Linked DNA regions of Homo sapiens: region 2 is linked to region 1. Evidence: fine-mapped expression QTL. A gene starts in region 1. The other region holds a variant in brackets. All regions are shown on one strand. Distances are between the middles of the regions.

Region 1 (8,326 bases):
GCTCAGGAGCTGTGTCTTCAGTGACTTCCTCTGACTTCCCCTTCTGGGTGTGCCCTGGAGCTACCTGGAGGAACAGACCATCCAGACCCAACTCAGAATCTCAGGAGCCTTGGACTCAGTGGTCCTACTGCCAGTTCTCTCCAGTGGGTACCTCCTATTGTGGGTCTGGGGCCATCTTAGAGCCTACCTGTCAGGGGGCAGCCCAGCCTGGACAGCCCTTGGCCTGATGCCCAGGGAACATATCAACCCGGGGGGATTGTTTTCCCTACTGGTGCACTCTCCCTCACTCATGTCTCCTCCTGGTTTCTGTGAGCTAATCAGAGAGAAGGAGGGGGAGGAGGGGGTGCTGCTTGCCTTCCCCGTTATCTGCAGCAATCCACGGTGACTAATGCTCCCAGTTGGTAAAAAGGCAGTGTAATCAAAACACTTTTTTTTTAGTCCTTAAAGTTAGTCATTCTCCCAGAGTGGAGGAAAAAAAAAAAAAAGCCCACAGCAGGCACCACGAGATGCAAGCTGAGAGGCCTGCACTGCTGGGTGGAACCAAAGCATTGGCTGTGGCAGCTCCTGCAGGTCAGAGGCCAGGACTCCTCCTCCTCTGGGTCCTTGGCTATCCTTCCTCCACACCCGCATTTGTTCTTGCTTTCCCCAGCATCTGGGCCTTCTGATCCCTGAAGGACGTCCATGCCATGTGAGGAGCTGCCCTTTCCTGTCACCCTGCCCGGTGCTGCCACCTGCTGGCCTGGCACTCTCCGTACTGGAGGAAGCATATAAAAGCTCCCAGGATGAGGCTGAGCTTGGCACCCTGGTCATAGGGTGGCCCTCCCTCCACCCACAACCTGGCCATTTAGTAGCGGTGCTTCTCCTGGTTCCATCTGTCTGCTGGCTTCTGACCTCACTGTGCCTTGACAGAACCAAAGGTTGTTGGAGGTCAAATGGCAAACTGTAGTGGCAAAAGCATAAGGATCAAAGCCAGGGTGCTCAGGTCAGAAACCCCACTTCACTGCTTCATGAAGCTATACTATTGCTTCATGGCTATACTTCAGCGCCATCATCTGTGAAATGATAATAATGGTAGTATCCACCTCACAGGGTTGAGGCAAGGATTAAATGTGAACTGCAGAGAATAGTGCCTGTCATGTCATGAGTGCTCAATTATTGTTAACTTATAATAAAAATAATAACAATAAAGTGGAATATAAACCATCTCATCGCTCTTTCTTGTCCAAGGCAGACATGACTAATCAATCATAGAACTTCCCCACTGATGGCAGATTCCCCAGAATCCTCAACACTGCATTCCAAGCAGACAATCAGAGTTGGCACATGGGATGATATCCATTCGCCCTCCCAGATCTAACCTGGACCTTTCCCATTGCAGTCAAGGAAAATGAGGCCCAGAGGAGGGACAAGACTCCCTCAAGCCACTTGGAGGCAGAGCCACGGGTCAGACAGGCGTTCCTGGTTCTGCTCGCTTCTTGCTGTCCTGGCTTCTGATGTGTCACTTCACCCTGACCTTTGAGCAGTCCGTGTGGGCCTCCCACCACTGGAAATCTCACCCTGATTTCCTCCTTCTTCTCCCACCCTTGCTCCTCCTCCTATGTCCTTGCCCCCCAAAGGCCCTGGGAAAGCTATTTTTCTGAGACGTCCTACTGAGCAGGTACAGAGTAGGGAGAAGTGGGGCAGTGAGGCCACAGAGAAACCTGAGGCCTGTGTCTGAATATCTGCAGGAGCCTCCCTGAGGAATCAAGACCTTTAGGGCTCCAAGAGAGCTGAGCCCACCAATTTGGCCCTATCACATTCAGTTTTTCAGCCTTAGCCCAGTGCTATAATGAAGTCCCTGACAGCCCAGGTCCAGGTTCTGGGAATGCTCACTCTTCACTAATAAGAGGTTGGCATGGTGAAAGACTCGGGGGCCAGCCCTAGACTTCTGTGTGGGAAAGGCTGGGAGAGACAGGACATGACAATCCCAGAGATGAGAGTCAGTGGGAAGCACCTGCTTACCAACTTCTGAGCAAAAACCTCCAAGGAAAAGTTGGGGGCTGATGGTGGAGCAGGTTCTGCTGCTGCTTTTCCCCTCGTAAACAGCTTTGTCCCAGAAGTAGACCTCTGCCACCTGAACAGTCTTTTACCTTCAGGCTCAGACTTCTGGGGAAGAATCAGTATTTACAAGGCTTGAAACCAGGAGTATCCACCTCTACCCAAAGCGCCTCCACTCTCAGCTTCTACTTAGAAACCCAATTTTCTCTTTTCCATTCCTTCCCTGCAGGGGCAGGATCAATCTGTATCATGCTGTCCCTTTGGTTATAAATAAGAAAGACATAGCTCCCGACCCTGCAGGCTGAGTTTTTCACAACAGTGGGAAGTGTTTGTGTGTCTCCATGTTCAGCTCCCCAGGGATCAATGCCTCATGGCACAGCAGGCTCATGGAGGAACACAGGATAGCAGGATGCCTGACTGTCCCTCCTCAGCCCAGTGCCCCTCTAGCTGAGCGAATGAGCCACAGGTAAGGAGACCAAGCAGGCACATTCCAGACAGACTCCTGGGAGGACACCATTCTTTTTAGTAACCTCAAAGATCCTGCTGGCTGCATTAAAGATTTCGAGGTGACCTGTCAACAGCACAGCCCCAGAAAAATTCATATTTAGCTTTATCCAAGATATCACCAGTTCCTCAGACCTGCCCACTTCTCTGGGCTTGCCCCTCTGTTCACCTGCCTTTCCCATTCTCCTATTTCCCTAGGGCCTCTAGAGTCAACAAGACAGCTGACTTGGAACCTTGCAATGTTGGATACTTTGGGATGTGATCTACCCACTCCATCTTATAGATGAGGGGACTAAGGCCACAAAGGGGATGTGACTTATCTGAGGTCAGTTATAGTGTCAAAGGTTGAACTGGAAATAGAGCCGCAGACTCCTCCAGACTTGTAGTCCAGAACTTATCCATTCTAGTCCTCTAGGATGTGTCTGCTGCCCTCCAGCCCTGAAACAGACTTCTACTAGGATATAGCAGTTACCTAGGCTAAAACGTTTGGAAATATTTATCCCTGTGGGGCATAACTGAGGGAGGCAGAACATGGGGAAGGGAGGAAGCAGGTGGGAAAACTATTCACAGGTGCTAACTGCCAGGAGGCTCCTAAACCCACAACAGCCCTTCCATCCGTCACACTCTCTGCAAAGCAGCAAGGACTCTCTCTTTCCCTTTACCCACACTCTCTGCCCAGGCTACCCTTTGGTGACTTCTGCTCTTCCTCTTTACTCTTCAAGGCTGCTCTTGTGCTCATTTTGGCCTGTTTCCTGAGGAACAACATGGTAATGAAGCTGATCTGCATGATGTGCTTGGGGATCCAACCTCCATTGGAAACGTCAATTGAGTCAAACTATGGACTCTCAAGAATGGAAACAGAAAACACAAATGAGAGACTGCATCCTGTGGCCCACCCTCCTACCTCTCCTGCTCAAGCCCTCTACTCCACCCTAGGAGGTCAAAACAAATCATACACTACTTCTGCTCTAGGTCATTGGTCATATTTTTCCCGCTAGGTCATTGATTAGCAACCCCCTAAGCAGTCCCTGAAACAATCCCGGTCCATCTGAGGAAGGAGAATTCCTAGAGAGAAGGTCACTGGGGGCCCAGCAGCACCTGCACGGGCCTCACTGCCTTCTTGTCTCTCTTCCAAGGCAGGGAGGTACTTAGCGGTGAGGAAACCAAGTCGGCCCAGAATCCCAGGCAACTTGTGAGCCACTAAGGCCCTGAATTCTGACTTTGGGAGACCCGAGGCAAGTCAGCTGCTTGCTTGGTCCTGTCTGTGTCTTAGCCATGGTAAGTTCCCTCTGCCTGGAGCCTCGTCACCCCTCATCTCAGATTCACCTGGCTAGCCCCGATTCTGCCTTCAGGGCTTGGCTTACACACTGGCTCCTCCTGGAAGCCTTCCCCAAAACCCCATGTGCTACTTCAGGGTCCCCTTCTAGGCTGCCACCACACCTCATTCTATCCTATCCTATAGCATGATTATAATTGCCTGCTTGTCTCTCCCTCCAGGAAAGTAGCTCTGGGAAGGAACAAGAGCAGGGCAGATACTTCTCTGAGATAGCTGTATCCTAAGGTTGGCTCGGTACCTGACACTAATATTAGTGCAACTAGTATTAGTTAAATGAAGGAATAGAACGAATGGGGCAATTTACATCATTTGAGTCCTGTAGAGGAGACCAAAGGGAAGGGCTGAAAGGCAGGGAACAACTCATACTCTGCGTCTTATTGTGTTGAATAACTCTAGGAAACATTCCAACCTGAAAAGCACCTATCTATTGATATTCAGAGCCCTGTGCCATCTTGGAAGGGAAACGTCCGTTTGTTTGTAACAGGTAATGCATGTGTGGTGTACAAACTGTAAAAGATAGGAAAGAGCATTCAGAGAATGTAAGTTTTCCACTTTCTCCATCCCAAATGGCTTCTTCTCCCACAGACAATTGCTGCCACTGTCTCTGGATTAGAAACCACTTGACAGAGGGGACAGCCCGGCTAAGGGCCCTGCATGGTCAGGTGAAGAGATCTTTAGGAGTCAGTGTTGAAGGCAGAAAACGCCCCCAGAGGTTCCCCTCATCCCCCGTTGCAGCCTGTGTGTCTAAGCGCTTGGCCAGAGCCAGAGAGTCGCCGGCAAGGGAAACTCCGCGGCGAGCACGCAGCAGCAGAAGGGTTAACGCGCCGGGCTCCGCCTCCCAACCGCCTCTTCCGGGCAGAGAGGCGGGCTTACGTCACTTCCTGGAGACTGGTTGAATCCGGAAGTGACCCTAGAGAAACGAGTTGTGGCTGAGGACCCCGGCGGCAGACGCAGGTTCGGGACCATGAGCTGGTGAGTGAGGCCCAGGCGGCGGGAGCTGCTGGACCCGCGGACCCGCGAGGCCCCTGGCCCTGTGTCAGTGCCGCGTCCCGGCTCCCTCCGGTCCCGCGCGACCCCTCCGCCCCAGAGCAAGGCCCGACAGCCCCTGCCCTAGGGTCGTTCCCTCGGTGCTTTCCGGAGTCGCAGTCTCTCAGCAGGACTCCCGGGGAGAGTGGCGGATGATCCTCTTAGCCTGGGACTCCGCGTCTGACCCGTTTTGCCGGACTCGCGTCCTCCTAGCTCCTTGAAGTGAGGGACTTCCTTGTTCCCTCCTTTTTTAAACACCCATTGAGGTGGAGTCAGTGTCGTCTTTCTCTCCTGTGGGCATCTCTGCCCCGCGCCAGTCCCTCCAGAGCTGTGGCCCTCGCTGTGGCAGCCTGGACCCAGTTCACTAATCAAAACCCACTCCCTTCTGGGTAACTATCCTCTTTGCACGACTTAGCAGGCTTCAAAAGACAAGGAAAACTTGCTTCTCTTTTTAAAGGGGCCAGAATTACACTCCGCACACACCCTTCCACTGTGGGATTGGACTGGTTTTAATCATTCCAGAGCTATTACTCACTGCCTGCCCTCTAAATAGGCATGGTTAAGTTTAAACTTATGGGAACTATCATGCCATGAGAAAAGAAGCCAGGGAGTCTTAGAGTAATAGAGTCACAATTCCAGTTGCTGCAGTATGATGTGATACTTGGGTCATAGTAGACACTTCATAATGGTGTATTTATTTTGTAAGACTCAGTTTGCCCAAAAGGCAATCCCCATTTGTTGCTCTCGATTATTTATGTTCACAGGAGAGAATTGTGACTTGCCTGCCTTCCTGGGGCTTTCTTAGAGGTTAGAGAATACTCATATGCAGCACCTTACCTTACCGTCAGGCCCAAGGACCTATATAGCCACAACCCTGGACCTCAGGGGATTCAACTATAGTGTGTGAATAAATTGAGCCCCAGAGATGTACAAGATTAATCAGCCCATGGACATAGGGAACATATTTGCCACTCTGTCCTCAGAGGCTAGTGTGTTTGTTTATGCAAAGCGCATGATAACCAGTTATGAATGAATTAAGATAACAGAATGTCCTTCAGGAAGGCTTTTGAAGCTTAATTTTGGCCATCAGTGGAGAACGCAAGCAGCTGATATCAGTCAGTGTCAGGGATACTTCTCTAAAGTAAAATGCGAACCATCTGTCCCCTCCCCCACCTGTTTCTTAGACCAAGATTGATGGACAAATGTCAGACAATCACCGCAAGCACGGGAGGAAAGCCTGAAGCAATGTCCTAATAAGCCCCGGCAGGAGCTTCTGCTTTTCCCTCCACCATTTGCTCCAGGAGGCCAATAAGGGGCTGGAGCCTTAAAAAGCTACCTTCCCTGTCTTGTTATAACCTAGTTAGTGGTGGGCAAAGCGGCAATTCTTCAGTTCCCTTTCCCAGAGGAATTACGTCCTTTCAGTGTCATTCTGGGCCCCCCAGTCTTGCAATATAGATATCCTTTTGGCTGCTGCGTCTTGAATCTTTGGAGTGTTCTTACCTAATTTTTCAAAGTGAAAATGAGGCAGTACAGATGCTTTATATTGCCTAGATTGGCCTTTACTGAACCAATCTTTCCTTCACAAGTTGGGAGAAGAGCACAGCAGAAACTAATAAAGGTAAATGATTCTCTGGGTGATCCGAAGCAGGTTGTTTCCACCTGTCTCACAGAAAGTTTCCCTTCTGAAAAAATAGTAGCCCATTCCTTAAAGGTTATCCTGTCAGGTTGGAGAGAATTGAGATTGACAACTGTCTAACAAGAGCTGAGATTTTCATCTAGTAGCTTTAATTTACCAGTACATGCACATCTTGGTATCTCCTTGGACTGAGAGTCACAGCCAGAAGGGTGGCTTTGTCCCTCAAAGCTGAGATTCCTTTCTCTTCCCCCTTAAAGGGCTTCTACGTCATCTCTTGCGTGGACCCTGACCCTGTCTCTCAAAGACGGGAACAGCACCGGCGCCTGGGCACACAATCACACTCAGTTCCTAGCTCAATGGCTGGCAAGGAGACCGGGGCTGGGTCCTTCTGATTCACTCCCTGAGTGGTTTTCCTGCCCCCAGAATGAATCCATCCATTCATGTGAGACTGGAATTCTCATTAGGGGAAGAGACCAGAGTGACGTAGAGCCATCATGGGAGGCTGATGCCCAAGGTCAAGTTCACCAAGTACATGGGCTGTGCCAAGCCATCATTAAATAAGGCACATGGCCCATGGTCCCCAGAGGGTAACCATTGTTCTGGGCTAGGCTGAGCTTTCAAAATGTCACAGTGAGAAATGTCCAATATTGATGCCCTTTGCACACTGTGGACTTTGCATGAAGAGTGAGAGGCCTTTGTTCTCTGCTTCCTCTGTGCAGGCAACCCGCCCACCCCCTGTTTGTTTAGTGGGTACCTGCTGCCTTCCTGCACCATCTACCCATCCACTCCCCATACACCCATCTGCCTTTCAGAAAAGTGACCCGGTGGTCTGTCCTACTAGGAAGAAGGCATTTGATATTCACATCTCAGATCACAGATTCACTTCTTGGCCTCAAGCCAAATGCTTCTCTCTCTCTCGCTCTCTTTTTCTCTCCCATTGTCCACCCCACCTCCCCCCGCCATTTGCCCCCCTCCCAACTTTCTCTCCTCTCCTCCCCACTCACCCCCTCCCTCCCTATTTCTGTCTCCCTCTTGTCTCCCTTTTCCCCTTCCTGTCTCTCTTCCCCATCTTCCAGTGTATACTCAGGTGGCTTTATTATGGTATGGAGAGAGGATTAAGTAGAATTAAGAATAGTGACCTCAATCTAAGCTGGCTCCAGGAATTGTAGCCTCCTGTTGAACCATACACCTTGATGATTTTAGGCTTAAACGAGGAGGAAAAGGGAGTACTGGAAGAAATCTCCCTATACCTAGGGGTCCAGTAGTTTGACAAAAAGGAAGGAAATTAGAGGCAGAGCAGGTAAGTGTGAGTAGGAGTTAGAGTGCTGCGTTCAGGTTCTGGCTCAGCCACTCACAGTGCGGCCTGGTCAAGCATTGAGCTGTTCTCTGTCTTAGTTTCTCCATCTGTAGCATGGAGTGGCCATTCCTGCTGACAATTTGCCACCTGAGCCTGCTGTGAAATGAGTGGAGTGATATTTTTCTGACTCTTCCGGGGTCTTCTACCTCTGTCTGCCCTTCACACTTTGGTGTTCCTCATGTTTGATCCTTTTTGTTTCTTTCCTGTTTTCACCCTGTAGTCCCTTGCCATCATCTTCAGGATAGAGGCCCAACTCTGGGCCAGGGCTTCTGAGGCCCTCTGGGCCTGGCTGTCCATCTTCACTCCGTGTGTTCCATCCTCCAAGCTTCTCCTGCTCTCTCGTGCCCATGTGCCTCTGGATAACTGTCCCTTCTGCCTGAAATGTTTCCCCTTCACTCACACCCTGTCCACTAGGCCAGCATCTACTCAT
Region 2 (8,326 bases), 34 kb after region 1:
GTGACCCCATCTCTACCAAAAAAAAAAAAAAAATTCAAAAATTAGCCGGGTGTGGTGGCTCACTCCTGTAGTCCCAGCTGTACGTGGGAGGCTGAGGCATGAGAATTGCTTGAGCCTGGGAGGCAGAGGTTGCAGTGAGCAGAGATTGTGCCACCGCGCTCCAGTCTGAGCGACAGAGTGAGACTCTGTCTCAAAAAAAAAAGAAGAAGAAGGATGTGTCCAGCAGGCTGGGCACAGTGGCTCACGCCTATAATCCCAACACTTTGGGAGGCCGAGGCGGGGGGGATCACCTGAGGTCAGGAGTTCGAGGCCAGCCTGACCAACATGGAGAAACCCTGTCTCTACTAAAAACACGAAAATTAGCCAGGCGCGGTGGCACATGCCTGTAATCCCAGCTACTCGGGAGGCTGAGGCAGGAGAATCGCTTGAACCCGGGAGGCGGAGGTTGCGGTGAGCCGAGATCACGCCATTGCCCTGTAGCCTGGGTGACAAGAGCGAAACTCCGCCTCAAAAGAAAAAAAAAAAAGTGTGTCTAGTAAAGGGAGCTAGGGCATTATCACAACACCCAAGCATGGGACTCCACCCTTAACCAACATCAGGGTTTCCCTGGCTGCTAGTTTCCTGTGTGCTTGGGGCAGCTTATAGCCCAGGTTTATAGCCCAGCCTGCAGCCCCAAATTGCTCTGGTCTTCCCAGCACCCCAGTGAGCAGGAGAAAAACACAGAAACTAACATTTAGTGAGGACTGCCATGGGCCAGGCACCTTGCAATCTGCTCTACACGCACTGCCTCTTAATCCTCAAAAGGAACCACTGGGGTAGATGATATCAGCTATTTCCTCGTAAGCCACCTAAAGTTGGCTGGGTGAGGTGGCTTAAACCTGTAATCCCAGCACTTTGGGAGGCCAATGCAAGAGGATCACTTGAGGCCAGGAGCTCAAGACAAGCCTAGGCAACATAGCAAAATCCCGTCTCCACTAAAATTTAAAAAATTAGCCAGGCATAATGGCATATGCCTATAGTCCCAGCTATGCAGGAGGCTGAGACAGAAGTATTGCTTGAGCCTAGAAGGTCAAGGCTGCAGTGAGCCATGATGCCACCATCGCATTCCAGCCTGGGCAACAGAGCAAAACCCTGTCTCAAAAAAAAAAAAAAAATGCTTAGTACTATCAAGTCTCCACAGCTAGTATCAGAGTTCATATCTTACCTGTCTCTGCTCATGCCTCTAAACTGCATTCTTCCAGCCCTGCTGGAGAAAACCAGGCTGACACCAAAGTACAGACTTTCAAGGGCCCTGGCGAGGCTCCTTCACACCAAAGCAAATTTCCCACCTGCAGTTACACCAGAGTCTTTCCGTTCCTTTAGCTAAGACTTTGGTTCCTGCAAACTTGTAAATCCCCTGGGACAGGCAACACTTTAAATGCTCATCAAGCATTTGTGCTTTAGTGGGAGTGATTTTTGAATTTTTTTCTTACGAGTAGCTTTTGCTGGATCCTAAGGTAAGTAATGATAAAAATAGTGGGTTCCTGGATGGAGAAAGAGTCTGTTGAAAAGAGGAAGAAAGATTGTAGGATGGGAGGCGGGGGCACCAATGGTGGGTTTTACTTCACAGTTTTGTGGAAGGTTCTAGATGCTAGGATCATAAAGTAAGGAAAAGATCATTTTTTTCCTGCTTCTGGATTTTACAGTTGAAATGAGGAAGGTAAGCTATCTCCATGCAGTGAGTCTGTTGTCATGCCCAGAGAGCCAGAGCTAAGCAGACTCTGTGTTCAACTCTCTCTGGCCTCATTCCTGCTGTCCAAAAGGCCCATCATAGTCAGCAAGTAAATTTGTATCTGGCAGTTGTTTATCTCCACCACCAGGGCCCATGTCTGTTTGAATCACCAGGGTATCCCCAGAACCTGGCAGAATGCATCGCACTTAATAGGTGCTCATACATGTTCGTAGGAATGAATGTTGTTTAAATTTGAAACAAAAAGACCTGAACCAGGACTCTGGATTCTAGCCTTGCATTGCCACCAGAATGTCCTGCATCCTTAGGGAAGTCACTCCTGTCTCTGGGCTTCGGGCTCCTCATTTGTAGCATAAATGCTGTTTTGTCATTCCAGGGCTATGTTGAATTAATCTAAATCCAAACGTGGAGTGCTAAGGTTAAGGGGCTTAGAATTCTCTCATCAGGTCAGCGTTGCTGGAAGACAGTGGTAGGAATAGCGTGGCTTTGACAGTTTCTGCAGATGTGTACTCCCTGACCCTCAGAGCAGAAGTCAGGATCTAGGGCTCTTGGGGACAGGATTCCCAGGGAGCAGCCAGGAAGACTTCTTTCTTGGGTCAGCAAATGCCTTCCAGGAGAATGATGGTTACGAACACAGGCTGTGGAGCCAGGCTGCCTGGGTTCCATTCCCACTGTGCTCAACTCTACCCCTCACCAATGGGGTGACCTTGGCCAGGGTACGTAACCTGGTTCCCGGTGACCTGCCTTGGAGATGAGTGTAGAGAACTGCATTCTTGTAAAGCACACAGTGAGGGCTCTGTGAATGTGAGTTAGCGGTTTTGACTTCTCAGAGCACGAAGCCCGAAGCTGGCACCTGACGGCTGCAGCTCTGGCCAGGGAGGGCAGGCCTCTAGCTTAGTCTCCTTTGCCTCTCGATGTCATTTACTTCCCATTGCATGCCCATAAGAGACCAATCATGAGGCTCCGTTTTACAGATAGTGAAGTCAAGGCACCAGAAGAAAGTACTAGACTTCTTAACTTCATCTTCCGCAACAAGTGCAGCCCCGGGTTCAGGACTCACCCATTTGGTTTCAGTGTTGCTGGCTCTCAAGAGAGTTGATACCCGGTCGGGAATGGAGAGAGCCTGACCTGAGTCAGTAGTCACAGTGTCTGTGTTTGATGCATCCCAATCACAAAGCACAGGTGCACGATTGTTCCTGACCCACCCTGAGCCCAGCAGGGGCAGGTGGCCCTGAGTGGAGGGCCGCGTAGGAGGGGAGGTGCCCTGCATGGACCTGGAAACTAGGAAAAGGCAGAGACAGACCCCCAATTCCAGACCCGCCCTCTCCTCTGCACTCTGCTGCCTTCCTGGATGGGGTCCAGTCACGTTCTGAGCACCCTGACTGCCTCCAGCCTGGGGTGAGGAGGGCATGCAGCGAGTGCCTTGCTCCCAGCTGGGAAGAGCAGAGCCACAGTCCGCTGGCACCTGCCTGGCTGGACCCTCTGGGAGGGGAGCCTTCCTCCGTAATTCAAACACTTAATTAACTTGGGATCTCAGAAATACCGTGTCAGGAGCGATCTGTCGGTGCTTGTGTGAACTGGACCATGTTGTTTTCTGCGGACTGGGGCAGGGTGTGGAGAGAGTTTCAGGAGGCTGGGAGGTTTTTTCCACCGTGTTGTCATTTCTCCGATAATTGAGTTATCTCTCTCGTTTCAGGTGGAGAGAGACTTTGAAAGGGAGTATGGAAAACTTCAGCAGTGAGTGTCAACCCCAGAAAGATGAGGTGGGAGGCAGGGAGGGACAAGGGCCCCCTGCCAGGTCTCACCTGTCTGCCCCGTGCCCTGCCCCGTGAGCACCCTGGAAGCTGAGGGCAGCTCAGGTCACCAGGCTGCTGGAACTGTTCCCTGGCAATGGCCATGTGAGAGTCATTCACTCATAGCCTTTGGGTGTAGTGGCACTTCAGTCAGCGGGAAAAGTCCCCGTGGAGAAGATCCCTTTCTCCTCCTCCTTGGCAGGCCCTCCAGAGCACCTGGGCTTCGCTCAGGTAGGGGGAAGGAAGGGGACCCCAAGCAGCCCGTCCCCTGCCTTGCAGGCTGGAAGAGCAGACCCGGAGGCTGCAGAAAGACATGAAGAAGAGCACCGACGCAGACCTGGGTAGGTGACTTTCCACCCGCACCACTCGCTTGAGCAGGTGGGGCAGAGGTGGGCACCCTCCTCTCTCAGCCCCCCAAGGGCTCTGAAGTTGCTGCGCTCAGAGGACGTGTACCCAGTGTCCTGAGAAGCAGCCTCAGGGCAGTCACTCCTCACCAGTCACATCCCACTTTGCACAGAGCTCGCACTGCCCCACTCTGGATGTGGGTGCTGGGGCAAGGCTCTCCTGGGACTCCAGTCAGGACAGTACAGCAGCTGGTGGAAGCTTCTGGTAGCAGATGCCTCCATTGCCTCAGAATCCTGGCCACCGGCTCAGGCTGTCCAGAGGGAAAGGGAAGCACATTCCTTCCCGCAGAAACGAGACTCCGTGGCCTGCTGGGACAGGCGCTCCAGTGGCAACAAGAATGGAAGCTGTCATGTGTTTAAACAGGAGGTTGGGTTAAAGTGTAAGGCCAGAAATACCCCAGATAATTCTATGATGACAAAGGGCACCGGGAGGTCCTTGGGAAGTGGGGGCCAGCAGGTGCTGGGAAACAGCCAGGGCCCTTGGGGAGGTTTCTTGGCTGGAGAGCTCTTGTTTGAAACAAGGAGGAACCAGGCCTGGGAGCCTAGAGACACAAGCAGGTCGGGAATAAGGGAGCATCCAGAGCCCTTGCTGCAGGCCATGTCCCAGGAAGGAGGCGACGAGCAGCCGGGAGAGATGGAGACCATTCCTTGAGGTTCTTTCTCCAAGGCCTTGACTTTCCCACCCCGGAGCAGCAAGCACTTGACCAAAGGTTGATCAATAGCTTCAGCACTCCCTGCGCAGCTCTGGACAGCTGACTTAGCTCTACCTCAGTTCCGTCACCCGAGAAGCACAGGTAACGCCAATCCGAGTGGCACAGGCTGTTGCTGAAGATGAAGTTGGATGAGCAACGTAAAGCACTGAGAACAGGGCCTGGCACGGGTCAGCTCTCGGGGTGTCCGCTCCTGTCATCACCGTCGTCATGGTCGGCAGCAAGCCTCCCTGACTGGGTGGACTCCTGCAGCTCCTTCCCTGGGTCCAGTGGGGAAGCCGTGTCTATATACCACACTGGGACGAGGACCTGAAAGAGACTTGGGTATGGCCAGGACTGCCCACTTCCTCTCACTCAGCAGATGCTGACCGAGAACCCACGTGCACCAGGCACTCTCAGCACTAGAGACTCAACAGCAAGACAAGATGGGAGCTTA[C/T]GTTCTAGGAGGAAGACCTGCAAGAGGTCCACAAGCGGATCGGTATATAATGACACGTCGTGGCGTGCAAGGTCAATAAAAATAAGGAGGTGGAGAGTGACAGGGTCAAGGGAGGCCTTCGTGGGGACGTGATCCCTGGGCAGAGTCCTGAAGGAATGAATAACCCACACAGGTAGAGCCAAGGGAAGAGGGCCTGAAACACAGTGGACAGCAAGCGCGGAGGCCCTAAGGTGGTGCACGCTGACCAGAGATGCAGGAGAGGCAGCAGGAGGGTGGAGAAGCCATCTTCAGTCCCCTCGGCCACTCCAGCTGCTGAATAATGCCATGTTATGGCTGTGAAGAAATTTCACCTCCCTGAGCTTTTCTGACCTTGAGATTGGCAGGGCACATGACACACCCATTTTATAAATGGGCATGTCCATTTGATAAAGGAGGAAGAGTTCAGCTCCTCTTCTCCAAGTCCAGGGCCTTGTCTCCACAGCGAAGCCTCCCCATGCCCCACTCATTCCTTTGCCCACCCCCGTGCCCGCCACCAAACTAGAAGGTGACCGAAACAGCCCCCACTCCGGAACCGTTGCCCATCCACTCTTTGCTTGGCTGTCTGTGAGCCTAGTGCAAATGGGGCGGCCTCACTGTCTCCTGACACCATTCAAAGGGCCACAGGGCAGTGGGCACCTACGGGTGGGACTTGAGGACCAGTGTGCTCCTACTTGGTACTGCAGTTACGAGGAAAACCCTTGAAATGTCCCAATAGAGGCAGTGATTTGAATTTGTTCCCATTTTATGCCAGCTCCTAAGCCTCAGCCAGTTACTGATGTGTAAACACACCTTTCCTACAAAGCACTGATCACAAAAGGAAAGCGTTCCTTCCCTGGGAGCCGCCGTCACCACCACCATGCCCGGGTGAGCGCTGACTGCCTGTGCAGGGACTGTGGCCGTCTTGGTCTGTGCCATGAATTTTCATGCCAGTGCTAATTCCTGGGCCGTGGGCTGGTCTGAACATGCACCTTGCTCCTGGCCTCTAGCGTTGCCAAACTATGTGTGTCACAAGCCAAGGACTGGATTTGGGAGTTTGTCTGCAGTTGTTTGTTTTGTAGTTATTTCAGGTCTGAGTTACTTGGGTCGCATTTTTCTTGATCGGTCCCCACTGCCTTTCCAGTTCGGGAGCTGCTGTGAGCCATTGCTTCCTTTCCTTCCTGCTTCTGCAGACAGCTGCATTGTCAGAGCATAAACGAAGCCAGGGTGTGCTGTGTTCACAGTGGCTTGCTACGGAACCAAGGAGGGCATCAGGGGTCCGTGACGCACCGTCCATGGCTGTGGAAAGCTTAGTTTCCCAGCAGAGAAACCAGAGTTGAATGGGTAACTGCAGAAGCCTAACACTACTGTCCTCAGTCAGGAATGGATGTGGGCAGAGACAGTGCCTCTGAAGAGCGGTGGTGGTGGTCATGGGGCCAAGGCGAGCCTGACAGCCACATCAGTCTCATGTACGGGGCATCAGTGTTGTAGGCGGGCTTGCTGTGCCGTGGGCCGCTGGGCCCCACCTCCAGCCTCCAACTAACTCATGAGCTGGGCGAGACCTGAAAATGTGTGTCCCTGGAGTTCCCAGGTGATGCTGAGGCCCACACTGTGAGCTCCACTGATCTGGACAGTTGAGGGGAATGGAGGGATGCTTTTCCTGAGCGTGGAATCTCCTGCGCTCCCCCAGCAAGGTGGAAAATCCCCAGTTATTCTAAAAAAGATGACCTTTCTTTCAGAAACTCATACTACTTTCAGAGTGCTCTGGTGAATCTTTGAATCTTACATTCCAGAGGCCGCATCAGGACTCCAGAGACCCGGGTGGGGTCCAAGACCCTCACTTTCTCTAAGGTTCAAAGATCACCAGCCTCCTGGTGTGGGCCAGGCTGACTGTGCCCCTCTCCCAGTCCCTGCAGGGAACAATGAGGGGTATGGGCTGGGGCAGGGACCACAGGTCCAGAGGGGCATGGAGACCTGCTGTTTATTTTTGTTGAGGGGGAACAGAGTCACACTGTGTCATCCAGGCTGGTCTCGAACTCCTGGGCTCAAGGGATCCTCCTGCTTCAGCTTCCCAAAGCACAGGGATTACAGGCATGAGCCACTACGCCCAGCCAAGACCATGGTGTTCTTGGTGTCATCTACCCCAGCTCTGCTCTGCTCACATGAAGCGGGGGCATCACTGGGCGGGGATTCCAGACCCAGTTCTGCCCAGGGCCGGCCACTGAGCCCACTCAGTTCCTTGACTTCCTGACAATGCAAGAGCTTTAGGAAAGAAAGGGGAAAATGCAGCTGGGCTGGGCGCAGTGGCTCACACCTGTAATCCCAGCACTTTGGCAGGCAAAGGCAGGTAGATCACCTGAGGTCAGGAGTTCGAGACCAGCCTGGCCAACATGGTGAAACCCCGTCTCTACTAAAAATACAAAAATTAGGTGGGTGTGATGGCAGGCACCTGTAATCCCAGCTACTTGAGAGGCTGAGGCAGGAGAATCACTTGAAGCCAGGAGGCGGAGGATGCAGTGAGCCGAGATGATGCCATTGCACTCCATCCAGCCTGGGTGACAAGAGCGAAACTCCGTCTGAAAAAAAAAAAAAAAAGGAAAGTGGAAAGACCGTGTCCTCGCTCCTCTGGCTTTTTGGGTTGTTTTCCTCAGATATTTTTTTAAGAAATAGCAGAAGATGTTTTTCAGAAACATTTCCAGCTTTATCCAGAATTTTATTATCTTTTTATTATGCTGTATGTGATCATTTCATAATCAAATCAAGTTATACGTAACGTTTGTTCCTAAATCTACAGAGTCACTCCACAGAATTTAAGAGGTGTTTTTCCCTCCGTTGCTTCAACATTTCTGGAAAGTTTACATTTCCAGCCTTCTCCCACAGTTTGCCCTTTTGCTGGTTGACTGTAGCACTCTCCCAGATTCCAGAAAAACCCCAGGAGGGTGCTCCGGGCTGGCTAGTCCGCTCAGCGCTGCTTTGCTGACTGGTGAAGGGGCCTGGCGGAGGCAGACCCTTCCCCGGGGAGCGCAGGGTCAGGGTTCAGGTTCATGCCATGGAGTGCTAGGCAAGGCCACATCTGTGATTAACTGGGAGGCAGACCTTATGTCATGGGTCCTAAGACACTTTTTCCACAGTTAATGTCTCTGAAATCAAAGTACTGAAAGTGTAGCCTGGTTTGATTGACAACAATTTTTTCTCCCTTAGTAGTTCATACAATAAGTGACTTATAATGAAGAGCATCT

The links.
Region 2: its variant is fine-mapped to the expression of BIN3 in lung (TOPMed, PIP above 0.99).

What each region holds. Positions count from the first base shown.
Region 1 is chr8:22,665,567-22,673,892 of GRCh38, reverse strand. It overlaps BIN3 (bridging integrator 3), which reads left to right and starts at 4,772. Exons shown (of 9, transcript NM_018688.6): 1 at 4,772-4,849. The coding sequence starts at 4,842. RefSeq lists a cis regulatory region at 64-913, enhancers at 4,603-4,662, 4,420-5,049 and a silencer at 4,913-5,072.
Region 2 is chr8:22,632,062-22,640,387 of GRCh38, reverse strand. BIN3 (bridging integrator 3) reads left to right here. Exons shown (of 9, transcript NM_018688.6): 3 at 3,426-3,466; 4 at 3,802-3,863. BIN3-IT1 (BIN3 intronic transcript 1) reads left to right here. Exons shown (of 1, transcript NR_027715.1): 1 at 1-17. Among named protein-coding and RNA genes, the nearest start is that of BIN3-IT1, 6.0 kb to the left of the region's middle. RefSeq lists an enhancer at 8,186-8,326. The variant C/T (reference allele first, on the strand shown) is at 5,073.